Linked DNA regions of Homo sapiens. The protein of the gene in region 7 interacts with the protein of the main gene of each other region in a pairwise test. Each region holds a gene or a part of one and is shown on either strand. Other genes may lie near its edges.

Region 1 (3,500 bases), on a different chromosome or scaffold from region 7:
TTCTTGAAACTGAAACAAAGAATTTTAAAAAATTACATTTGGAAATGACCTAAATGTCCATCAGTAGATGAATGAATCAACAAAATATATATGAAATATTTTAGACTATCACAATCTTTTTTATTTATAAAAGGTCATAATCTAGGAGAAATCATCCCATTACCTGTTTTTTGTAAGTAATTTTAGTGGGACACTGCTACACCCCTTCAGTCTGCATATTGTTCATGGCTACTTTTGTGCTGTAATTGCAGGGCCGAGTTATTGCAACAAGGATCTTATGGCTCACAAAGCCTTACATAACACTATCTGGCCCTTTACAGAAAAGTTCACAGACCCCTGCTCTAGGACTAAAACACAACATTCTTCTTGCTTTTGAATTACATTTTATCAATTAAATACTCAAACTTACAAACTGGTAAAATGTGGAAAGATAAAGGATTACCTCACGCTAAGCATTTATATTTTGAATTCCAAACACTACCACATCAACTATAATTTTATTTTTTGTATGTATGCATTTAGTTTTATTATAGCAAAGCAACTTGCACATTTTTAAATATTTAAAACTAAGCATCATCTTTCCTTTCTAGGGAAACAACAAGAAAATTTAAAAACAAGCAGGAACAAAATTAAAATCGACAAAGTCAGTTCCAAATAAGATCCTACAGGATCTTATTGACTCTCCCATTGAATAGCAGGACTCAGGTCATCATTAGGAGAGAAGTGATTTAAAAGCGTCATCTTAAACTGCAAAGATGTCCATTAAACATGCCAAAGGAGAAGCCCTGTTGTCTAAATGCCCACTTAACCAACCCAAACATCTCAAACCCATCCTTTGCTGACCTTCTATAACCCCCTTTTTAGTTTAGCTTTCTCTACAAATAAGAGAAAATAGATACATGTTGGCAAATGCTAACTGTCCATATTCATATAGAGACAGAGTGTGCTCTCTGAGCCCAATACAAAGGAAGTAAGGATTTTCATCGAAATAAAAATTTATTCAGTAAAATGGCCTTTCTGAACAAGTTAACCTGAAATCTAAGAAATAAGTATACACAGGTTCTTTATACATTCAGAAAAGTAGAGACTAAAAAGAAGATAATTTTCTGAAACATTCCATTAGACATTATCCTCTGAATTAACCTGGCTTGCCTCACCATGCCAATAGAGAAATCATTAAAAATAGACTGTTTAACAGGAAAAAAAAACTCTCTCAACTTCTGTGAGAAATGATGCATAATTCTCAACTTTCCTAAGGTTAAATATTTAAGAAAAAAATATATGTATAAAAAATGGCAGAATGAAAGCCAGAGATTAAGATATAGGTGCATTATAATAAAATCTTAATAAAATTAATAATAAGGAAAATACAGAAGAAAGCCATCCACTATAAAATTTTAATAACATTAATTATCATAAAAATACAAAAGAAAGCCATCCACTAAAATTAGTACCCCAAAACACTTTATATTAGTTAACTAGCTACAGATTAACAGTTGTTGGTGTGCAAAGTTGCATACATACTTGACTTCTCATCTGGTCTAATTTCTTCCTTGAATCCTGCATCCCATTTTCTAAATAGGTGCAGTGACGCGATGAAGCATCCAGCAGAGCTTTTGTTGCTGATCCTTTGTTTAAGACATCATCTCGTTTTTGTTGAAGCTGTCTCACAGCTACCTGATAAGATGTTATTTTTGTTACTGATTTTACAAATCACCTTATTATTAAACCATTAATAATATTTAACTCTAAAGCATACTCTTTGAAAAATATCACCACACAGACCGATTCACCTTCTTTTCCTCATGTGTACACATTCCTGTGTATTACTGAATCCAGTTAAGGATACAGAAGGTGTTATCTTCCTGCCAAACTGGTATTGTTATTCACACAACATATTCAGCCCACTAGTCATTCCTCCCTTGATGAATCTGCAATGCTTAAAAACCTTCTGAAGTCTCAAAAAGAAATGAGTATGTGGGTGAGACTGATGGTAGTAAATTATACATTGTGGAATGATTTCCCTCTTTTTTTAAATTAGAAACTCAAATCAACCTCAGAGTTCCTCACATTAAATCATCTGCTTAAATCCTTCCAATAGATGTCTATCTCAGAAGAAAAGTAAAATTCCAGTGGCCTTAGATGCTCTAAGTAACCCGCCCTCCACCTCCCGCCCTGACTCAGCTGCTATATCTCTCCTCCGTACTCACTCCATTCCTACTCTACGTGAATCCTGCCACTCCTCGTTAGTCTGAAATCCTCCTTAGTCTGAAAATGGGGATCCAGTGTCAAACTAATAAATCACAGATAGCTATGCCTCTCTTTGTCCTGGACAAAGTTATATCCAAATGATAGTAATTGAGCCTTGAAATAAAAATTATGAACAAATTTTTTATTTAAAAACTGAAAGTAAATTATAAATGCCAGTGGGAAGATTAAATCAAACATGATTTGGCTAAAATTTACTGCATTTGCCCCATATTATAATAGAAGTAAAATTAGATGCCTTGAAAGAATAGAATGGTCATATCTATACATAATTTGAGATTGAAATAGTTTCAGATTTAAGTCAAATTGACATGAAGAAAAACAAAATTTTACCAACTAAGACATATTTAAAGCTACTGAAGAAAAGTAATTATGAAATAGGGAATACACTTCAGTTCATCTAGGAAATCTGAAATTCACTGTCAAAGTACCCCACTTAATTGAATCAATTTCAAAATACCATTTTAGGTATGAGCATTTCCATATACCTGATTTATCATGGTCTTAAAATGTTGCAACATAAATACATTAAAATTATTACTTCAGCAGTATAAGACTACATTATTAATGTTAGTCTATGTTAACATTTTATAACTTAAAATTTTATAAGTGACACATTGACTTTAATCAGAGGAAAGCATCTCTCAGTTCTAACTTTGACTTGCTGGAGACAAGGAATGTTTCTAAGCAGATATATTTATCATATGTATCCTTTTTTATATTCAACTAGATCCAACATTCAGCTGTAACCAAATATTACTTTAAATTTTACTTCAGGAAGTTTGAAAAATACTTATTTTTCTTGATACTTACTTCTCTTTCTGCTTTCTCTTTTTCATATTGGCATTCTTTTTCTTTCGAATGATTCAGTTCATTGACCAACATTTTATTGTCTTCTTCTAGTAAAAGACGGTGCTTTCTGCACTCAGCTTGAAGGTTTTGTACTCTAGCATCACATCTGGCTTGAATATTAAGTATTGCTTTTTCTTGATTGTCAGCTTTGTTGCGAGCATCATCCAGTTGCTGTTGAAGCAACATATTTTGTTTTTTTAGTTGACAAAATCTTTCCTGTTTTTCTATGCATTTTTCCATTGTATTGTATCCACTTTTGTACATTTTTTCAATGTCCTTCATTTGACTCTGTTTTTGCTTTAGCTCACTTTGCACGTGTTCAAAAACCAAAGCCTTTTCTTTCAGAGCCTCTCCTGTGTAATGGAGCTCAGTTTTGAGGA
Region 2 (4,055 bases), on a different chromosome or scaffold from region 7:
AATTACAATAGAAATAATGGGAGAATGATGTGAGGTAATGTTACATGTAAAATGTTATACACAATTCTTTTACTACGTTTACTGTCATAGTTTTATGACGCCTTCAAGAGTCATTGTGCTACTTAAAGTGAGGATCTGCTGGTTTGTTTATATTTTCAGCTAATAGCACCATCGTGGAGGTGTTTATCCACTTACTACATGTATCATGTCTGGGGGGTATATTTAGGGGGATAGTCATGCTGGCACTCAGATTACAAGTTTTTCCTATGAACCAAAATGTTGTTTTATTTACAAAATAAGTAAGTATTATTTTGTAAATAATTAAAACTTAAAAATTCCAACCCCCACTTGTACTTTCATTAGATAATATTTTTGCATACCTGAAAAAATACTGTTCTCTAGTGAAAGAAAGAGCAAGTGGGGGTTGGGAAGGGGTAACTTATGACTTCAACAGCATAAGAGGATAGATAACCAATGGAATTAATACATCGAATGATTTCTTCTGTATAAAAGTATATTTTATTTAAAAACAGTGATATTGACATGTATGTTATAGCCCTTACAGAAAAATAACACGTTTTATAGTCCTTTTATTTGAAATTCAGTGTAAATCACTCTTAAACTATAAATTCACAGTTGTTGGAGGTTTTTTTTTACTTTAAATGATGTGAAAGCATTTGTTCCATTCAAAGGCCCCTATGCCTTTGAATGACATATTCTCAGTAACTTCTTTGCCAGTAACTAGAGTATGTGAGACTGAGTAACTATAATGTGCATATTTCAAGAATTAGCTTCCCGCTGCATTATAACACATTTCCTAGGAAAGCCTTTGTATTTTTCATAGCCTTTTCACATATCCCTCATTTAAGAAGTCACAGTGTTGCAGTTTTACTTTGTTTCAGAGGGGAAGGCCATCTTGTTGGCATAAGGGGGACAGAAGATATAATATACTCTACACTCCGGCCTCTTCCCTACAACCTAAAAGGGAGAGGAGTTGAGGCAGATGGGCTAGGACTAGGCTTTTTGGTAGGCACATTATAGAAGACTGGGTAAGAAAGGTGGGTTAGGTTTTTTTAAACTTCAAACTGTTAGGAAAACGAGGCAAAAGCAATAACCATACCATATGTTCAAACAGAAGTAGGTTAAAATGTAGTAGTTATCCCTTGGTTTACATAGGGGATTGGTTCCAGGAACTTCCACATATACCCAAATCCATACGTGAGAACTCAAGTCCTGCAGTTGGCCCTTTGGAACCTGAGTATATGAACCTGCTCTATAAGTGGGTTTCGTGTTTGGTTAATGATATATTTTTGACTCGTTTATAGTTGAAAATAGTCCATGCATAAGTGGACCCTTGCAGTTCAAACCTATGTTGCTCAAGGGTCAAATGTATTTACTTCTGGATTATGGGATGATGGGTAAATTATTTTTACTTGGCTACTTAAAACTCTTCTGTATTTTCTAAATCTTCTTCAAAGAGCTTTGTTTGTTTTTAATCAGAAAAACATGCCTTGCATGCCAGTTGTTAGAGAGATGCAAGAGAACAGTGTGAGTACATGGGCAGGCCAGATCTGGCAGGCTGTAGACAAATGGGAACCAAGGCTCATTATGAAGACAGAGAGGGAAAACTAAGTGAAGCACTAGGCCTCCCCTGCATATGGCTGGCTGTTAGGTATGCTTTACATATACTGGTTCTTCTCCTTTAGTACCCTGATGGTTTAGGCCAGGTAACAAGAATCCCACTTTGCTTTTTGTTCCATGTCAATCCTCATGACGTAGCTGTTGTGGCATTAATGCGTTTCACCATGACTTCTTCATATTGTTTTTGTGTCAGTAACCCTTCTGTTATGCTTTTACTTTCTTCAAATTTGGGTAACACAACTGCAATGTAGCCTTCAGTAGATGGCTGGAAAGGAAAGAACATTTAGTACTGTCAAACGATGAAAAAAAAACCAATAAAAGGTATGTGGATGAGATCATATTTTTTCTCTCTCTTTTACCTTTTCTTGAAGAATAGATGGCTTATGGAGGATGTTTTCATTCACTTCCATCAAACGTCCTCTAACACAACTATTAAAAAAATTTAAGATTTCAGCATGTTTACTTAGTTAAAAAAAATTGTTTCTAAGAAAAAAAATTACCTCCCTTTGGTCTCCTAAATGGTGGCTAAAAAGTTACTCACCTAGACACAGTATATTCTTCACCATCTGAGCAGTAAATCTTACAGAGAGGTGCAAGCTCTGTTAGAAACTGTGCCCCCTGTGTAATGAGACGGAAGAAGTAATCAGTTGATGGACATTTCCACTTTCCTTTGAGAAGTAGCCCTTAGGTGTATAACAGGATGTATTCCTGGAACTGGTGTTTTAAATCAGTTACTTCAGTATATAAAAACCATTCATTAATTTCAGAACCTATATGAATATAAGTACCTACTGTGTGCCAGGTGCCATCCTAGGTCTAGGGAAAAAAGCTAAGACACATGATAAATGGGAATTTACAGACTGATAATATATTTTATCAACTGTAAATGAAAAAGCTACATATAACCAGGTATAAAGATTTCAAAAGTGTGGGAAAATCCATCAACAAGAAACAATATAAAATTCAACATGACACAGTATGACAGCAATATTGTATAAAGTTAGTTTCATTAAGATTTCTACCTCATTTTAATATTAGAACTTAATAGATAAAGGAACTTATTTACCAGGGTCAATCACTAAGACTTTTTGAAGAAGGGATATTGTTCTTTCCCCCCCCCCCCTTTGTAATTCCCCAGTGTGTTAGTAAGGGATATTTTTTCTAGTTAAGAAAAACAAAAACAAAAACATGCACTTTGAGGAAAATGTGGAAAACAAAAGTTTTAAGCAGCAAAATAAAAATAATTGACCCATGAGTCAATACTACATTTTGATGTGTATGTATTTGAATGTCATGGCATGGTTATTGTTTCATGTACTCCACTAGATGGATATACCTGGGGAGGCTCTCACAAGTATCTACAGGGAGGCTCATGAGAGCCAGTGCAGGCATGTTTCATGTGTTGCCCTCTTTTCTCCCATGAATTTTTCCTGTAGTGGACATAGGCATTTCAGGTTAAGATGCTATTCTTTATGACCCCTTTATTTACCACTCAAAACATTTTTAGATGGCATTCAGATATTACTATATTGGCTTCACTCCTCCGCACGTGGGTTCTTCATTTTAAAATACTAGAGTCATTGTGACTTTCTGCTTTTGGAAGGAAGGGGAAGGCTTGTGTTAAAAGAGCAGACACAAAAGAGCTAGGTCTGTGCCAAAACAGCAGAAATGTTTTGATGCCTTTTTGTCACCTCCTTTGGGAGAATGATTGGCAGTTCTGAGATCCAGTGAAAACTTACTGTAGTGGGTTCAATATGCAGGTCCCTCTCTGTTCTTCACTTGTAACAGGAGTGTTACTTTTTTTTTTTTTTTTTTTTGAGACAGGGTCTTGTTCTGTCATCCAGGCTGGAGTGCAGTGCTGCCATCATGGCTCACTGCAGCCTTGACTCCTGTGCTCAAGCAATCCTCTTACCTCAGCCTCCTGGGTAACTGGGACTATAGGCACATGCCACCATGCCCAGCTAATTAAAAAAAAATTTTTTTTTTTTGGTAGAAATGAGGTCTTGTTATGTTGCCTAGGTTTGTCACAAATTCCTGGCCTCAAGTGATCTTCCCGCCTCGGCTTCCCAAAGTGCTGGGATTACAGGCATGAGCAACTGTACCTGCCTTAAGTGTTACTATTTTGGACAGAGATTTATCATTGAAACTTCAGAAGTCTTAAGTGTTATTGTAACTTGTAGACTATCGTTTAAGAGAGGTGCATGCTTTTCTAAGTCCACTAGTTTCTTGAGTGAGGAAAAATCAGTAATTGTAAAGCACAATAAATCAGTAATTATTAGGGGACTTCAGGCCTACAAAGGGGGGTTTGAATAAGGGTCTCCTAGAATAGTGAGAGCAATTAGCAGAAACTCTTAGTATGAACTCAGTAAATGAACGACTTAAATCATCCACAGAAACTTTCCCAACCAGTGGGT
Region 3 (3,500 bases), on a different chromosome or scaffold from region 7:
AGCTGAATAAGGCTGAGCATGGTGGCTAACACCTGTAATCCCAGCAGCTCAGGAGGCTGAGGCAGAAGGACTGCTTGAGGCCAGAAGTTGGAGACCTGGGCAATTTACTGAGATCCTGTCTCTACAAAAAATTAAAAACTAGCTGGGTGTGGTGACATGTGCCTGTAGTCCTAGCTATTCAGGAGGCTGGGTGGGAGGATCCCTTGTGCCTAGGAGTTCACGGTTGTGGTGAGCTATGATCATGCCACTGTGCATCAGCCTGAACTAGAGGGTAAGACCCCATCTCTTTAAAAAACAAAACAAAAGCTAGGCGCGGTGGCTCACGCTTGTAATCCCAGCACTTTGGGAGGCCAAGGCAGGCGGATCACGAGGTCAGGAGATCGAGACCATCCTGGCTAACACGGTGAAACCCCGTCTCTACTAAAAATGCAAAAACAAAATTAGCCAGGTGTGGTGGTGGGCGCCTGTAGTCCCAGCTACTCGGGAGGCTGAGGCAGGAGAATGGCATGAACCCGGGAGACGGAGCTTGCAGGGAGCCGAGATCGTGCCACTGCACTCCAGCCTGGGCGACAGAACGAGACCTCATCTCAAAAACACACACACACACACACACACAAAAACTGATTAATATTCCATTGTATGGATGTATTACATTTTGTTTATTCATCAGTTAATGGACACTTGTTATATCAGTTGGGGTTCTCCAGAGAAACAAAACCTATAGGATGTTTTGTAAATCTCTTTATACCAAGATATTTATTTTTTATTTTATTTATTTATTTTTTTTGAGACAGAGTCTTGCTCTGTCACCCAGGCTGGAGTACAGTGGCGCGATCTTGGCTCACTGCAAGCTCCGCCTCCCGGGTTCACGCCATTCTCCTGCCTCAGCCTCCCGAGTAGCTGGGACTACAGGCGCCCACCACCATGCCCAGCTAGTTTTTTTTGTATTTTTAGTAGAGATGGGGTTTCACCATGTTAGCCAGGATGGTCTTGATCTCCTGACCTCATGATCTGCCTGCCTCGGCCTCCCAAAGTGCTGGGATTACAGGTGTGAGCCACCACGCCCGGCCCTAAGAGATTTATTTTAAGGAATTGTTTCATGGGATTATGGATACCAACGAGATCTGCAGTCAGCAAGCCGGAGGCCCAGGAGAGCTGGTGGTGTGGTTTTATTCTACAGGCCATCAGGCCACCAGGCAGAAGGAGTTCCCTCTTCCTCACCGGAGGGTCACCCTTTTTCTTCTCTTCAGGCCTTCTGCTGATTGGATGATGCCCATCCACACTGGGGAGGGCCATCTGCTTTACTCAGTCCACCAGTTCAATGCTCATTTCACCCAGAAACCCTCACAGACACACCCAGAATAATGCTTGACCAAGTGTCTGGGCACTCAGGCCCAGTCCAGCTGGCATATACAATTAGCCATCACACTTAGGTTGCTTCCACCTTGTAGCTGTTGGGAATAATGCTACTGTGAACATGGGTGTCATAAACTTCGTTTTGCTAGGAAGCGTTTCCTTAGTCACCCCCAACTATGTTCTTTCCTTATTCTGCCTTTCATCATCTGACATTATTTGTCCTGAGTCTTTGTCCTTCTCCCTTTTCTACCCTCTCCCCCTACTGTGGTTCTGAGAAGAATTTAATGCAGTTTACTCAGTGCATTTGTTTTCAATGCATGTTGCTTTATAAATGTTCTCAGGTGGGTGGAGGGCATGGTGCATGGACCTTCTTTTTCCTGGGACCCTAGCCCCTTCTCCCTGGGCCTTGAGAAGGCTTTGTCTGGAAGTGCTCAGAGTGGCATCCCTCCCTCCCTTCCTCTTCCAAGGAGATCCTGCTGGGCTCCCATCTTTAGGGCTCCTTGTCCTTAGTTGTGTTCTGGGCTCGTGCATAGAGCTGCTCTGCTTCCATGATGATTCTCCTCCTAGTTCTCTGTTAGGACCTAACATGGTGGTCAGTCTAACAGTCTCCTAGTGACCACTGTATGATGGTGACTGCACTCTTGCCTCATTATTAGCTAAACTGGAATGCTAGCTGGCCATTTCCATCCTGTATCATTCCATACTTTGTCTTGAAATCCTAGATAAAAGACTTGAACCACCACCCTGCTCACAGCACCCATTATACAGATGAGAAAACTAAGGCTTGGCAAGGGGAGTCACATGATGCTAGGGGAGGACTTTCCCCCAGCACCACACAGCCTCTTTTGACCTTCAGGGAATGGGTTGAGAATATTGGTTGGTTCTGGCTGCCATTCTTGTATGGTTTTGTGTTCCCTTTTCCTTTTTTTTCTATTTTTACCTGGGCTGAAAAGTCGATGACATAGTTTTTTCAGACTTTGTCTCTGAGGCCAGTTAGAAGTATATTTTACCTTGCAACCCAATGGATACACACAACTGAAACACTGTCTACCCTTATTTTCTGTCATGTATTCTGATATTTTCTATTCTATTTTATTATACAGTAGTCCCCCCTTATCAGCAGGGGACATGTTCCAAGATCCCCAGTGGACGCCTGAAGCCACAGATAGTACTGAACCCTGTATATACTATGCGTGAATTTTTTTTCCTTCTTCACAATTTCACGGATAGAAGATTTGTTCTTACAGGAGATCTTAGCAACCTCAGCATGCAATTTATTTTCTTTGTAAGTCAAGAGCTTTCACCTTTTCACTTAAAGCTGGCCAGGTGCAGTGGCTCACACCTGTAATCCCAGCACTTTTGGGAGGCTGAGGCAGGTGGATCACTTGAGGTCAGGAGCTCGAGACCAGCCTGGCCAACATGATGAAACTGTCTCTACTAAAAATACAAAAATTAGCTGAGTGTGGTGGTGCATGCCTGAAGTCCCAGCTACTTGGGAGGCTGAGACAGGAGAATCACTTGAACCTGGGAGGTGGAGGTTGCAGTGAGCCGAGATTGCACCAGTGCACTCTAGCCTGGTGACAGAGCAAGACTCTGTCTCAAAAAAAGAAAGCACTTTATGGCTTCTCTTTGGCATATCTGAATTGCCAACATCACTACTCTTGCTCTGTGGAGTCATAATGAAGTCAAATATGGGTTACTTGAATACAAGCACTGTGATACAACTATAGTGAACTGATAACCAAGACAGCTACGGACAGCTACTGAAAGACTAATGGGACGTTAGTGCATACAGTGTGGATATACTGCACAAAGGGATAATCTGCATCCTGGGCAGCACTGAATGGGACATAGCAAGATTTTATCATGCTACTCGGAATGGTACACTATTTAAAAACTTATGAATTATTTCTGGAATTTTCCATTTAATATTTTTGGACTGTAGTTGACCACAGGTAACTGAAACCATTGTGGATAAGGGTGGACTACTGCATTTAATTTAAAGAAATCCTAGTTCCAGCCCACTACATTGGGTTTAGGACTCATAATGGGTTGAAATTTTGATCTGAAATATATTGTTGTGTCATATCCATCGCTCCATCCTCTTCCATAGTATATCATTTCATTATTTCTTTCCTCAAACT
Region 4 (3,500 bases), on a different chromosome or scaffold from region 7:
GGCTTTATTGCATGGTTTCTTTCTCCTTTAGCTAAAGTGACAAGTGGAGAGAAGAAGTTATGGGGACCAGAGTAGTTGAAAAATGTTTTTGAGCCAGCCTAGATGGAAGAGCAGGATGAGTGGAAGAGACGAAAAATATCTGAGGAAGGGGAGATCCGATTGGATGGATATGCTGGGTCCAGATTAGGGAAGGCCATCAGAGTCCAAGGGAAAAGCCTGGATCACAGGAGCCATTGATGGTTCTTGAGAAGGGCAGGTCCAGGAAGAAAGCTGTCATTTAGGAAGATGTGTCCTTAGTATGTTGACCGAATTGTGGCAGGAATTGATGGAGGCAGGGGTCAGCTAGGAGGCTGCACAGCCATCCCAGGGTGACAGTAGTAGCAACAGCAGAAATAGAGAGGATAGAGGGGCATTTCAAAGGCCAGATAATAGGACTTGGTGCCAGATGGAAGAATGGGAATAGCAAGGGGTGAATTCAGGGAAACTGATGGACAGAGCTGCCCCTGACGGAGATAGGCCAGTTGGGAAAAGAACTTTGAACCTTTGCTAAGGGAGAATCTATGCTCTTCCTCAAACTCCTGCACCCTTCTTGGGTACAGATAGATTTGAGGCCTGAACCCTAAAGCTGAGCCCTGAATCACAAGGTCTAAGGTCAAGGAGCCCTGTGCTGGTGCTGGAGTGGGAGTGAGGGGTAGAATTACGTCCCTCTAGGACGCCTACCTACCGATCATAGTCCATGACTGAGATGAGCAGGCTGACTTGATCCATGTTTTCCGGGGGAATGTCAAAGATGATGGCCTCATTGTAGACAGGATTGAGAGTGTTTTTCTTTATGGTTGTTTTCTTCTTCTTCAGCCTCCGCCCATCACAGAGCAAGGACACTTTCACATAGGGATCTGTGCCAATGGGGACAGAGAAAAGGGAATGGAGTATGTTAAACAGATGTCTGCAAACATCATTTGCAGCAAAGGGACCGAAGCCCTAGACCTACTGCTGCTCATCAGATGGTATCAGTGGGTTGTTAAAATAATTAAACCACCTTGTATTTATGTAGCACACCTGTCTCTGAGGACACTCTGTGCTTAATAAATGCAGAGTCTTTAGCTACCTCAGTATTCTTGGGAGAGCGCCTAATGGACTTTTACTAATGGGGAAGCTGGCCCCATATCAGACATGACACCTGCCGATAGGTATGCAGTTCACAGCCCTAAATCTCAGCTCGTCAATCCCTGGCTGACTCAAAAAGGTGATGAGGCTGAACAATGACACTATTTCTTTTACCTATGTGGAGTACTATTCTTTGAGTGGCTTTTTTGTTTTACCAGAATTACAAACCAAAGGATAAAGGTTTTGGGGCGGGGTAAAAATAGGACTCAACAATGGCCAGGGAGACACAATGTGTCAGAGTGAAATGAACAGCAACAATCACAATGCTGTTCATGTCCTCCCCACCTGACAACATAATTTTGGGTCCCATTGTCTCAATAATCCCATTTCCATTTGGCATCTAGAAGGCGTGAAGTGGCCCTGCTCTCTGCTTCCCTGGAAGCCATTTCCTGCCCACTTCTGGACAGTGGAGAATGAGGGAGCTGTGGCCCGGGGAGACTCAGGGCAGCTGGTTGACATTTCCTTTCTCAGTGGGATCTTGGATTCTCTCCATCCTGCAAAGAGATGCTTTTATTGAACTTCCATGTGCCTCCCATCCTTTTGTTTTCTTTAGTTTTCTGAATGGGTATTTCATGGTCATCTTTCTACCCTGAAATTTTCTACTCACCCAAGTGAAGTGAAACCTAGTGTATCTCATAGCACAGGTGTCTCGGTCACCATCATAATTGTTATTTATGCTGCACAGCTCAAGAAATGGGAGGGCGGCTCACAGGTAATAATAGCTTTCGAGACGCTGATGTGCTGAGACACCTTGTTGCCCAGAAGCCAGGGCTCCTGTGAATCTGTCAGGAGGTGCCAGCCAAGCAGCTGCTCCCCAGCTCTGTGATTCATAGGCATATGGTTCTATCTCCTGGACATCGAGCACCCACTAGGGCCCTGTACTCCCTGGCATCATTCAGATGGCAGATGAGGCACACATCCCTGGTGGAAATTAGGGAGAACTGTGACACCTGATCAGAAACTCCAAGCCTGAAAGGCATTTTTGTAGACACCTAAATGAGCTGCCGACTAATCCATGTGGCAGCAGTAGCTATGCCTTAACCATGGGGAGATGAGGTTGGGTTTATGGAGAGACCATGAGGTGTTTAATCAACCTGCTGTCTCAAACTACACATTTGAAAGGACCCTCTCTTAGGGATTTTCAGTAAAATGGAAGTAAGAGTTTTGAGAACCGGCATGAGGCTCTGGTTTCCACAGATTCCATTCTCTATGGATATGCCCCAGGACATTATTCAGGTTCAGGTAGACAGATGGGCAGAGCTAGCCCCAATACCTGTCTTTAACACAGCAGCTTGCAAAATCCATAAGGATGTACCTTTTCTTGCAAAGTGGCTCCAGACTTGAGGTTGCTCAGGTGCCGCCTCATTCCCCTGCTCTACCTATTTCCATACACTCCCACATCAGGGCAGATTTCCATATCATGAGGCTTGGAAAAATAGAGGCAGAGCCACTTGTCCCATGGGCCACTGAGCAAATGTCTTAGCAACCTTCCCCAACTCTGTTCATCCTTACAAGGCATATCCATTTTTTTTTAAGAGACAAGGTCTTGCTGTTTTGCCCAGTCTGGTCTTGAACTTCTGGGCTCAAGTGATTCTTCCACCTCACCCTCCCGAGTAGCTGGGATTACAGGCATGAGCTACTGTGCCTGGCTGATATGAAATTTATAAAATTCAGTGCACATATTTCCCTTGCAGGAACCAACACTTTCACCAGCATCCATGAAGCCAAGCAGACAGATGACCGTTCCCTAGGCTTTTCTGGGGCAAAAGTCTGCGGTTTCTAGTGGAATGCTGGCCCCAGATGATCTTGGAGGTCCTTTCCTCTCTAACAGCCTATGATGCTCTACGCAGCTGAGGGAGGGGACACAAAGACCAGCAGTGTATTTCAGCCTCATTGTCATGGGAGCAATCAAAATCCAGCATTTAGAATGTGCTCACCACCCCTTTGTAGCATACTGGTCCTTATTATTATTTTGTGCTATTTTTAGTGTCATGGTTCTAGCAGATAGGCTTAGAGAATTGATTCAGGGCTAGTTTAGATCATTGAGAATAGGAAGATCCTGGGTTTTAGACATCAATGCCACACAATTCAAGAATAGGCAATTAATAAGCTCCATTCAATACCTAGCTTAGTCCAACATCGAATAAGTCTGGGCTGAGGGAAACCTCAAACTCATCCTCAAGAACAGGAGATCTAGTTCGAGAGGCTCCTAGCAAGTACACCCCCACTGCTTCACCCTTGGGCCAGGTTCCTCATGCTGTAAATTCAACCATCCATTCATTCGGTATCTATTTATTGAATGCTTACTGTGTTTTATCCACTGTTCCAGATAC
Region 5 (3,500 bases), on a different chromosome or scaffold from region 7:
CAACATGGTGAAACCCTATCTCTACTAAAAATACAAAAAAATTAGCTGGGCTTGGTGGCGTGCACCTGTAGTCCCAGCTACTTGGGAGGCTGAGGCAGGAAAGCCGCTTGAACCGGGGAGGCGGAGGTTGCAGTGAGCTGAGATCACGCCACTGCACCCCAGCCTGGGCAACAGAGAGAAACTCAAAAAAAATAAAAAAATAAAAAAATAATAAAAAATAAAAATAAAAAAAAGAAAGAAAAAGGAAAATAAGTATCTTTCCACATCCAAACATATGACAAAAAATAAGAAAAAACAAAAAAAGAACAGAAATTCAAAACAAAATTAATTTCTTTAATGACATACAAATGGCCAATAAGCACATGAAAAGGTGCTCAACATCATTAGCCATGGGGAAATGCAAATCAGAACTCCACTGACTCACCCAGGGGAGTTCACCCAGGTGCCAAGATTTAGCCAAGGCTCCAGGTCTTTTATTTGTAATTTTTTTTATTGTTGTATTGTTTTATTAGTCTCTGCTTCTCCACTTCTAGCACAGGGCCTTGGTCCACAGTAGGCACTCAATACATACTGAAAGAACAAATGAGTGGAAAAGGAGCATGGCAGACAGAATTCTTCTCTACAGGCTGTCTGGAGATGAAAAATATGAACCTCAAGTCAATAAAGTCTGTTGTTTACCCACCAGGAGCAGCTCTCACCCAGGTGTCAACATTCAGACAAAACTCCAGGGCTGGGAGGAACTTCTGCCCTAGCACTAAACAGATCAACATCTGGGAGGCAACAGCTGTGCCTCTTGGCTCCCCTGGCAAGACCCCTTAAGAGAACCATCCATGGAGAAATGCTGTTTTCCTTTTTGCTGGGCTCAAAAGCTTAAGGGCTGGGTGAAAATCCAGGGCCCTGTGTAACCCACAGCTCAGGACTACTCAGAGACTGCACGGCAGTTCCTGGTGCAGACGAGGCCCCAGAGATGGGTTCCACCCATCTCACAGAGACTTCCCCTGGAAGGCCTGCTACCTGACAGCAAGTAGAGATGAGTGGGAGGGTCAGGGGACTGCTTTCTCCCTAACTTACCGTCCAGACACCGGTTGTTGTACTTCTTATATGCGGTGATGGCATCGTCCTTTTTCACAAACACCACCTCCGCTACCCCAGGATGGACCAGTCGAGCTCGCTTGAGGGCCCCACACACACAGAAAAGCTCCTGCACACAACAAGAGGGGTTGGGATTGGGGAAGGATTTCTCAGCACCTGCCGCTCACACACTCTGAAGGCCCTGGGGTGTGGTGGTTCCGCTGCAGCTAAATGCGCCCTGCGCCTGAGACTGCGGGGAGGCTCCACGCGAGGTGGTGCTCTGGAGACATCCACAGGCTTCAACACAGCACCAGATGAGGTCAGCAGTGGGAAAGGGGCTGGGTTTACAAGCCTTGGATCACCTGGGATCTCCCAGCAAGCCACCACCAAAGTCTTCAGTGCCCACCTCAACAGGGATAAAACAGTTATGAAAATTTTCGCAAAGAGCCCTGTCATTAGAATACATGTATACAAAGAAAGACAGCTGCTAATATGTCACCTGAGAATCTGTTACAAATACAAATTCTGGAGTTCTACCCAGAGTCCTGGTTTGGCTGGACTGAAGGGTTTCCCTGGACATGAGACTTTGAGTGATGAAACCAGGAGAGTCCCCAGCAAAACAGGGACAGTTGGTCACTCTAAGTCAGACCTGAGTTTGATCCCCCAGGCTCTGCTTTCTATCTGCTATGAGACGTCTAGCAAATTACTTAACTTCTCTGAGCCTGTTTCCTCCTCTGAAAATAAAAAGGACTAGCTTACTTCCCAGCTTTACTGGAAAGCTCAACTGAGATAATTTTTAAGGCAGTGCTTTGCACACATCATTGAGTCCGATCTCCACCTCATTTTACAGACAAGACGACTAAGGCCAGAGAGGGAGCAAAATGTGAAGATGGACAGAGGCTGACTAGCACTCACGCCATTTCTTCACCTGCAACTGCCTTCACAAGGTTGCTGTGAGGGCCAAAAGAAGGTTTATGAAAAGGTCCTTGACATGGTTTGTTTTTAATGGTAAATATCAAAACAAGATGCCCCTCTGCACCTGCAGGAGACTGGTTCCAGAACCGCTCGCAGATACTAAAATCTGTAGATGCTCAAGTCCCTGCTATAAAATGCTGTAGTATTTACACATAACCTATGCACATCATCCACTATACTTTAAATCATCTCTAGATTACTTATAATACCAAATACAATGTAAATGCTATATAAATAGTTATACTGTATTTCTAAAATTTGTATTATTTCTCATCATACTGTTATTTTTAAAAATTTGAGTATTTTCATTCAGTGGTTGGCTAAATCCACAGATGCAGAACCGACAGATATGGAGGGCCAACTATAAATAGTAGGTGTAATTCCAATTTTATTACCATTGTCCTTTTAACATTGCCTATTTGGGTAGAAGAGAAGCGAGGGTGATTATTACTAGCAATTTCCCCTGAGCACTGATCATGACTGGTGTTTAGTTTTCCACCATTATGTATCTTCCAAGAGTCTGCCTAAAGTGACTGGCACATAGCAAGTACTCAGTAAATGGCAGTTGTTATTACGCTCCTTAACAGCTTTAATTCTTTTCTTTTTTTGAGAGAGTCTCACTCTGTCACCCAGGCTGGAGTGCAATGGCGTGACCTCGGCTCACTGCAACTTTCACCTCCCAGGTTCTAAGTGATTCTCCTGCCTTAGCCTCCTGAGTAGCTGGGACTACAGGCACGTGCCACCACGCCTGGCGAATTTTTCTGTTTTTAGTAGAGACAGGGTTTTGCCATGTTGGCCAGGCTGGTCTCGAACTCCTGACCTCAGGTGATCCACCAACCTTGGCCTCCCAAAGTGCTGGGATTACAGGCGTGAGCCACTGCACCCGGCAATCAGCTTTAATTCTTAATGACTTGTCAAGTATTACACAAAATAGGCTACAATTTCCATCCTCACGTGCACCATTCACAGTACTGTCCCTGCTAAAGGAGAAGGAGATACGAGTGACCCATCTCACGGCATGCGTGTGTTTCACAATTAAGATTTAACCTCAGCTGGGCACAGTGGCTCACACCTGTAATACCAGCACTTTGGGAGGCCAAGACAGGCAGATCATGAGGTCAGGAGTTCAAGACCAACACGGCCAACATGGTGAAACCTCGTCTCTACTGAAAAATACAAAAATTAGCCGGGTGTGGTGGCACACGCCTATAATCCCAGCTACCAGGGAGGCTGAGGCATAAGAATCACTTGAACCCAGGAGGCGGAAGTTGCAGTGAGCCAAGATCGCACTACTGGCACTCCAGCCTGGGCGACAGAGCAAGACTCCATCTTTAAAAAAAACAAATCGAGGTGGGTGGATCATTTGAGGTCACGAGTTCGAGACCAGCCTGGCCAACATGGTGAAACCCTGCCTCTACTGAAAATACAAAAATTAGCCAGGCGTAGTGGCAGGC
Region 6 (3,455 bases), on a different chromosome or scaffold from region 7:
CTCTACCCAGATCACTTTTGAGACAACCAGTCCAGCTGAGGACAGAGCCAGCGAGGTCCAGCTGCATCTCTACGGCCAGCACTACCGAGTCTACACCCACAGCTTCCTCTGCTATGGCCGTGACCAGGTCCTCCAGAGGCTGCTGGCCAGCGCCCTCCAGGTGCCCCTCCACCCTGGCTCACCTGCACTGCACTGTTCCCTCCTGGAGCAGAGCCTGGACAGCCACTGTGCTGTGGAAGGCTTCTCCAGGCTGGGCTTTAATTGGCTGGAAAGACAGGTGGGAGGGTCAGAGCATGAGCAAAGGCCCAGTGGCTGGGCTGGGCCTGGAGAAGGGAGGGCCAGGGACGGCTCTCAGAGGGAGCCTGGTCAGGGGCGTTGGGATCTGTCAAGCAGGCAGTGGGGAGCCATGGATTGCCCCTGAGCACAAAAGTGAAGTTGCCAGAGTGAGACCTGTGGGAGGTTTGTCAGGCTGGTCCTCTGGAGCGGTGGTGGTGCCACCCTGTCACGCTGGTGATTCCCCCAGACCCACGGCTTCCACCCCTGCTGGCCGAGGGGCTTTTCCACCCAAGTGCTGCTCGGGGATGTGTACCAGTCACCATGCACCATGGCCCAGCGGCCCCAGAACTTCAACAGCAGTGCCAGGGTCAGCCTGTCAGGGAGCAGTGACCCCCACCTCTGCCGAGATCTGGTTTCTGGGCTCTTCAGCTTCTCCTCCTGCCCCTTCTCCCGATGCTCTTTCAATGGGGTCTTCCAGCCCCCAGTGGCTGGGAACTTTGTGGTGAGTAGGGGCAGGCGGGTGGCTGGGAACTTTGTCGTGGGTAGGGACAGGCGGGTGGCTGGGAACTTTGTCGTGGGTAGGGACAGGCGGGTGGCTGGGAACTTTGTCGTGGGTAGGGACAGGCGGGTGGCTGGGAACTTTGTCGTGAGTAGGGATAGGCGGGTGGCTGGGAACTTTGTCGTGGGTAAGGGCAGGCGGGTGGCTGGGAACTTTGTCGTGAGTAGGGACAGGCGGGTGGCAGCAGGTGCTCTGAGCCGCTGGGGTTCGGTCACAGTGTGACTGCGCCCCCTACAGGCCTTCTCTGCCTTCTTCTACACTGTGGACTTTTTGCGGACTTCGATGGGGCTGCCCGTGGCCACCCTGCAGCAGCTGGAGGCAGCCGCAGTGAATGTCTGCAACCAGACCTGGGCTCAGGTGAGCCCCGCTCCCACTCCTTCAGGGCTGTGCGGAAGGGCTCAGCCTCCGCCTCCGCATGCCTCCCCAGCCCTGCATGGACAGGCCTCTCGGAGCACCCGCTGCAGTGGGGGCGATGGCAGGCATTAGGCTGACTCCAGAGGTGGCGTGGCTGTGGCCGGTAGGCTGTGAACAAGTCGGGCGGGTTGGAGAAGCTTCGCCAGGCCCGACCCTCATCCCAGATCTGGAGGGCAGGGGGAGGCCGGTGCCCAGGTTTCTGGCTTCTGCCACTGGTTCCCTCCATGGTACCACACAAGGGAAGATGGAAGTGGGTCTGGGCACCGGGAGTGTGCCCACCGGAGACTCCAAGAGAAACGTACGAGTCGTCCCAGGACCGGGGTGGTGAGCGAGGCCCCATTTTGTCCTCCCAGGGCCTAGTCTCAGACAGACTGGGGTGAGGGAGGTGGGGACAGGCGGCGAGCCAGCGGGCAGACTCAGGCCTGGAGCTCGTCCTGTTCCCCTGGCCACACACCAAGGTGTTGCTGCCTCCTGCTCCCTGGTGGCCATGCCTGCTGTCCCTCCTCACTGGCCTTCCAGGCATGGGCGCTGGCTGGGGAGGGATGGAAGCGTGCCCTGCCGGGGGTGCCCCTCGGACTCGGTCTTGCCATTCGTGTCCGGGCCTGTGTGGTGGTCTCTGGCCTCGCACGGCCCGTGTGTGTCTGGGGAGGGGTGAAGCACGCCGCCGGCCCCCTCTCCCCGTGGGGCCGAGACCTCCTGGTGGTCGCCTGCCTGACGGTGTCCCGCCCGCGTCCCAGCTGCAAGCTCGGGTGCCAGGGCAACGGGCCCGCCTGGCCGACTACTGCGCCGGGGCCATGTTCGTGCAGCAGCTGCTGAGTCGCGGCTACGGCTTCGACGAGCGCGCCTTCGGCGGCGTGATCTTCCAGAAGAAGGTGGGCTGGGGCGGGGCGGGGCGGGGCCGACCTTGCGGGGCGGGGCCTCTCGGGAGCTGAGGCCACGCCCTTCCCCGCAGGCCGCGGACACTGCAGTGGGCTGGGCGCTCGGCTACATGCTGAACCTGACCAACCTGATCCCCGCCGACCCGCCGGGGCTGCGCAAGGGCACAGACTTCAGCTCCTGGGTCGTCCTCCTGCTGCTCTTCGCCTCCGCGCTCCTGGCTGCGCTTGTCCTGCTGCTGCGTCAGGTGCACTCCGCCAAGCTGCCAAGCACCATTTAGGGGCCGACGGGGGCAGCTGCCCCATCCCTCCCCCAACCCCTGTATCCCCACCCCGTACTCCCACCCCTCCCACAACCCCTGTACCTCCCACCCCTGTATCCCCACCCCTCCACCCACCCCTCTCCCAACCTCTCTCCCCGCCCCTGTATCCTGCATTCCTCCACCCACCCTCTATCCCCCACCGCTCCACCCCACCACTGTCTTCTCCATCCTTCCACCCCACCCTCAGCGTCTCTGCCCCTAAGGCAGCCCAGGAAATAGGAACTGAGACTCTGGTACCCACAGGAGCCTGGGTGGGCAAAGAGCGCTCAATCCAGCTCCTTGAACCCCTCCAGCCCGCTTCAGCCTGGGCATCACTGCAGGCCCCGTGCTCCTCCTCCTCCTCCTCAGGGCTGGGTCTCCAGAGAGTGGGGCCTTGGTCCTGAGAATCAGCCCTTAGAGGCTCCTTCTGTGTAGTCTGGGTCTGTACTGGGGAGGGTCACAGCCCACGGGCTGGCAGCCAGCCCAGCACCTACTTGTAAAAATTTTGTAATAAAAAGTTTTTCCTAGAGACGTGAAAGGAGAGTGTCTGTGGGGTGGGGCATCCTTGCTGTGGCCTGTGCCCCCACCTTCCCGCTGTTCTAGCCGCACGGGCCTGCCCTTGGTCCTGAGGGTGGACACCATCCCTCCCTACTGCCTTCTGCTCTGGAGCCAGGCCTGGGGCACTGGCTGCTGCCCTGGTGTGCCGTGGCAGCCTAGAGTAGCTGCAGGATGGCTGGCCCGAGGGAATGTTCCTGGGCCCTTGAGTCTTCTCTGGCCAGCAGAGTTCCCCAAAACCATCACATCCAGATCTGCGTTGGTGACCAAGGCCAGACTGAAGGTTGGGTCCTGGTACAGTGAGCCTGGGGGTGAGGGTAGAGGTCAGGGAGGTGGCGGAGAGTGGGTGGCAGCCAGCCAGGCGGCTTCCTAGGGGGCAGTCAGTGCTGGTAGAGACTGGCGGGAGGGCAGGCCCACATCAGGAGGTGGCACAGGGGTGGGAGATGAGATCAGGACCAGGACCCATAGGCAGGA
Region 7 (3,500 bases):
TGAAACATGCTCATGCTCATTCATTTACAGATTGTCTATGGCTATGAATGCACTGGAGCAGAAGAGCTGAGTAGCTATGATAGAGATCATATAACCTGCAAAACCTAAAATATTTACTGTCTGGCCCTTTATATGAAGTTTGCCAACCCCTGGTTTAAAAACATTTCTGCTCTACCCAACATGAAATTCTAAACTGAAACCCTTCTTTAAACAATTTAAAAGGGTTTCATTCTGCCAAAATAAACTGAGAATTCAGTCTGGGCCTAATTGAAAGTTAACTAAGTTTAGACATAAGCAGGAATTTGGGGGCTGGAGGGTTTCACAGTCTTATAGTGCTTTTCTGAAAACAAGTAGGGATTACAGCACAGCAAGAGCTCTGGAATCTACCTAATTAAAATTATATAAATGTTATTCTATAGCAAGGGTGAAAAGGACTAAAACAGAGCCAACCGGTTATCATGGCTGATCAAGATAAAGGTAGAAATAAGACTCAGTAAGGGAATACAACCTCTTGTCCAGGGGCTGACCCTTGTAAAGAAAGAAAGAGCTTCAGGATGGAGGGTGGGCAATAGGTCAGTGAATTCCAGGTAGTAGGCCACATCCATAATTGCGGCATGCTCCTTAGTAAGCAGAGTGGTAAATGGGTACAAATAGAACACAGAACAGAAAGAATCCTAACCAAGAGGTTGAAGGAAATAAGCCAACTAATAATAATGGTTCTTTCTTGGTATTGGGGTTTATTATTAATATTATGCTTCTTTGTAATATTCAGTATTGTCAAGACAGTCTCAAGAACTGAAGGAAATTCAGATGAAATAAAACTGGGCAGGAAGGAAAAGGAAGAGGGGAGAAGAAAAAAGGAGAAAAAGAAGACAGAAAAGTAAGTAGTGGCCTGGTTATTTTGAAAGAAATCAAGGCCGGGCGCGGTGGCTCATGCCTGTAATCCCAGCACTTTAGGAGGCTGAGGCGGGCGGAACACCTGAGGTCAGGAGTTTGAGACCAGCCTGACCAACATGGTGAAACCCTGTCTGTACTAAAAATACAAAAATTTGCTGGGTGTGGTGGCACACGCCTGTAATCCCAGCTACTCAGGAGGCCGAGGCAGGAGAATCGCTTGAACCCAGGAGGCAGAGGTTGCAGTGAGCCAAGATCGTGCCACTGCACTCCAGCCTGGGCGACAGAGTGATACTCCATCTCGGGGTGGGGGAAAAAAAAGAAATCAAGACAGTTTACACACAGAAGGTGAAAAATGAATAATCTTAAATTCATCAAAATACCTACTTTAAAACATAATGTTACATTACTTTTCAGATTTTTTTCTGGCTCCTTTTTCTTTTTCAATGTAGCAGTAGTTAAAAACAGCACAAAAAAGTACTCTGGAAACACTCTATTAATAACAGATTTGTTCTGGAAACCTTAGTTCATCTTGCTTTGGTTGAAATGGATGAAAAGCAAGAGCGAGTTCAAAATTACTGACTCTAACAGAAAAACACAAAGACACTAGAATGCAGGAACAATGTATTTAAGCCTTTAAACTCCTCTGAAGTAAAATACAGGAATTCTGGGTTGGCTAAGGTCCTAACAGGAAAAGTGTGTTGTCTATTTCCTTACAGAAATCTTTTTTCCCCCCATCTAAGTTTCCATTAAAACAAAATTTTGCACCTTCACCTAGCAAATCTAAACCCATGAGGAAAAAAAAAACCCAAAACTCTTTTCATAACTTGTTAAGACATATAAAAATTTGGTAAGTGTTCTCTTTACATATATCATAATGTCCTTGCTGATCAGGGTTAGCTCTGGGTGAGGGGACTATAAGCACATCATTACTACGCCATCCATAGGAACTAACCTCTCCAAAAGTAATTTCACATCTTCCCCCATGTCACACACGTTTCCCTGAGATCTAACACTCTGCAAGTGAAGGACTGGATGTTTCTTCTGATGACATTTATCTCATGTATTTGCTGCATAACCCTCTTGGCAAATTTTATTTAATTGTTTAGAAGCATGCAGAATATGCACCACATGCCAAGAGGAACTCAGCAAACCCTGTCTGCTATAGTAATGTTTAAATTAGACAAGGGAAAAAGACTGTGAACTTAATTTGATTAAATAAAGGGACTTTTGATGTCAACCATCCTGAATTTAGCACTCACTTTTTTTTAAAAAATAGGTATTTTCTTATAAGTGTTTTCATAAGAAACAAGATAAAATGTATTTGATTAGTTTCCATCAGCCTATTTTATTAATATGCCTTGGCAGGCTTTCATTTATGCTGGTAAATTCTGATGATGAGTCTGTTATCAGAGAACTACACTATATCAATCGGGTTATCAGTAAAATTAACCTAAATATCCATTCTATTATTTTTCTTGATGAGTCCACTTAAAGAGAAACTTACAAAAAACCAAAAGCCATATACAACTGGATCCAGACTGAAGAGGTTGAAAAAAAGAACTTCCGCTGGGTGCGGTGGCTCATGCCTATAATCCCAGCACTTTGGAAAGCCGAGGTGGGTGGATCACGAGGTCAGGAGTTCAAGACCAGCCTGGCCAACATGGTGAAACCCCATCTCTACTAAAAACACAAAAATCAGCTGGGCGTGGCGGCACGTGCCTGTAATCCCAGCTACTCCTGAGGCTGAGGCAGGAGAATTGCTTGAACCCGAAAGGCAGAAGTTGCAGTGAGCCAAGATTGCGCCACTGCACTCCAGCCTGGTGGCAGAGCTAGACTCTGTCTCAACAACAACAACAAAAGGACTTCACTCAAAGTATACAAAGAGAAATGCTCCAACGCCCAGGAATAGAGTCATAGAATATACAAACATTTTTGTTTTCTAAATGCTTAAATTTACAGAAGAAAAAAGAAAAAGTAGTTTTTCATTTTGTGACTTTTCTTAATTTTGCATTTTCTTCTCAGAATATATGTAAAGGGATCACACTATTTACATTTACCCTAAAGAGCTATCTTTCCTAGACAGAAAAAAAAATTATGAAATAAAAGAATTACTTGATAAAAATCACTGACAACTTATTTTCTACCTGCTTCTCAAAAGCAGGTCTGGACTGTATAAACCTAAGTTTTTCTTCCTTTTCTTTCTTTCTTTTTAATCTTACAAGGCAGATTGATTTCTTTTGGTCTGTCTCCCCCTTCCTATTACACTTTATTTTTCAAATATATAATACAAGTACATAGTATGAAATTTAGAAAGACACATTAGGCTGTGTAGTTAACTCCTTACCCCTGTACTCCCAGTCACTCAGTTCCCCTCCACAGAGCTATTCTTCCCAGTTCCTAACACAGCTTTTCAGAGATTTCTATGCTTAGATAAGCATATACATGTGTATGTGTGTGTGTTCCCCTACATAAATATGCCCTTGATACTGTTATGTACCTTTTTTACTTATGAATTCCATATCACCTCATATAAATTTAATTCATATAAAGCTGCCTTCAAAAAGTAGTTATATGGCTCCATAAGATTCCATTGTACAGATGTG

Evidence for each region.
Region 1: the proteins of HMBOX1 (region 7) and ANKRD36 interact in a two-hybrid assay, tested with the Homo sapiens proteins (one large-scale study listed by BioGRID).
Region 2: the proteins of HMBOX1 (region 7) and ABITRAM interact in binary tests that used the Homo sapiens proteins (3 or more experiments, as listed by UniProt).
Region 3: the proteins of HMBOX1 (region 7) and PIP4K2B interact in binary tests that used the Homo sapiens proteins (3 or more experiments, as listed by UniProt).
Region 4: the proteins of HMBOX1 (region 7) and SYT6 interact in binary tests that used the Homo sapiens proteins (3 or more experiments, as listed by UniProt).
Region 5: the proteins of HMBOX1 (region 7) and POLDIP3 interact in a two-hybrid assay, tested with the Homo sapiens proteins (one large-scale study listed by BioGRID).
Region 6: the proteins of HMBOX1 (region 7) and ENTPD2 interact in a two-hybrid assay, tested with the Homo sapiens proteins (one large-scale study listed by BioGRID and IntAct).

The regions. Positions count from the first base shown.
Region 1 is NC_000002.12:97,245,653-97,249,152, reverse strand, and holds part of ANKRD36 (ankyrin repeat domain-containing protein 36A), read right to left. Parts: coding exon 3,082-3,500; intron 1,678-3,081; coding exon 1,525-1,677; coding exon of another isoform or gene 1,483-1,524; exon of another isoform or gene 10-1,482; coding exon 1-9.
Region 2 is NC_000009.12:108,937,400-108,941,454, reverse strand, and holds the end of ABITRAM (protein Abitram), read right to left. Parts: intron 2,260-4,055; coding exon 2,183-2,259; intron 2,071-2,182; coding exon 2,001-2,070; intron 1,907-2,000; coding exon 1,769-1,906; 3' UTR 501-1,768; downstream 1-500. UniProt on the Homo sapiens protein: Actin-binding protein that regulates actin polymerization, filopodia dynamics and increases the branching of proximal dendrites of developing neurons.
Region 3 is NC_000017.11:38,772,057-38,775,556, reverse strand, and holds part of PIP4K2B (phosphatidylinositol 5-phosphate 4-kinase type-2 beta), read left to right. Parts: intron 1-3,500. UniProt on the Homo sapiens protein: Participates in the biosynthesis of phosphatidylinositol 4,5-bisphosphate. Preferentially utilizes GTP, rather than ATP, for PI(5)P phosphorylation and its activity reflects changes in direct proportion to the physiological GTP concentration.
Region 4 is NC_000001.11:114,098,370-114,101,869, forward strand, and holds part of SYT6 (synaptotagmin-6), read right to left. Parts: intron 897-3,500; coding exon 725-896; intron 1-724.
Region 5 is NC_000022.11:42,590,884-42,594,383, forward strand, and holds part of POLDIP3 (polymerase delta-interacting protein 3), read right to left. Parts: intron 1,202-3,500; coding exon 1,072-1,201; intron 1-1,071. UniProt on the Homo sapiens protein: Is involved in regulation of translation. Is preferentially associated with CBC-bound spliced mRNA-protein complexes during the pioneer round of mRNA translation. Contributes to enhanced translational efficiency of spliced over nonspliced mRNAs.
Region 6 is NC_000009.12:137,047,607-137,051,061, reverse strand, and holds the end of ENTPD2 (ectonucleoside triphosphate diphosphohydrolase 2), read left to right. Parts: coding exon 1-160; intron 161-523; coding exon 524-778; intron 779-1,072; coding exon 1,073-1,192; intron 1,193-1,986; coding exon 1,987-2,121; intron 2,122-2,201; coding exon 2,202-2,405; 3' UTR 2,406-2,955; downstream 2,956-3,455. UniProt on the Homo sapiens protein: In the nervous system, could hydrolyze ATP and other nucleotides to regulate purinergic neurotransmission. Hydrolyzes ADP only to a marginal extent. The order of activity with different substrates is ATP > GTP > CTP = ITP > UTP >> ADP = UDP.
Region 7 is NC_000008.11:29,012,395-29,015,894, reverse strand, and holds part of HMBOX1 (homeobox-containing protein 1), read right to left. Parts: intron 861-3,500; exon of another isoform or gene 773-860; intron 1-772. UniProt on the Homo sapiens protein: Binds directly to 5'-TTAGGG-3' repeats in telomeric DNA. Associates with the telomerase complex at sites of active telomere processing and positively regulates telomere elongation.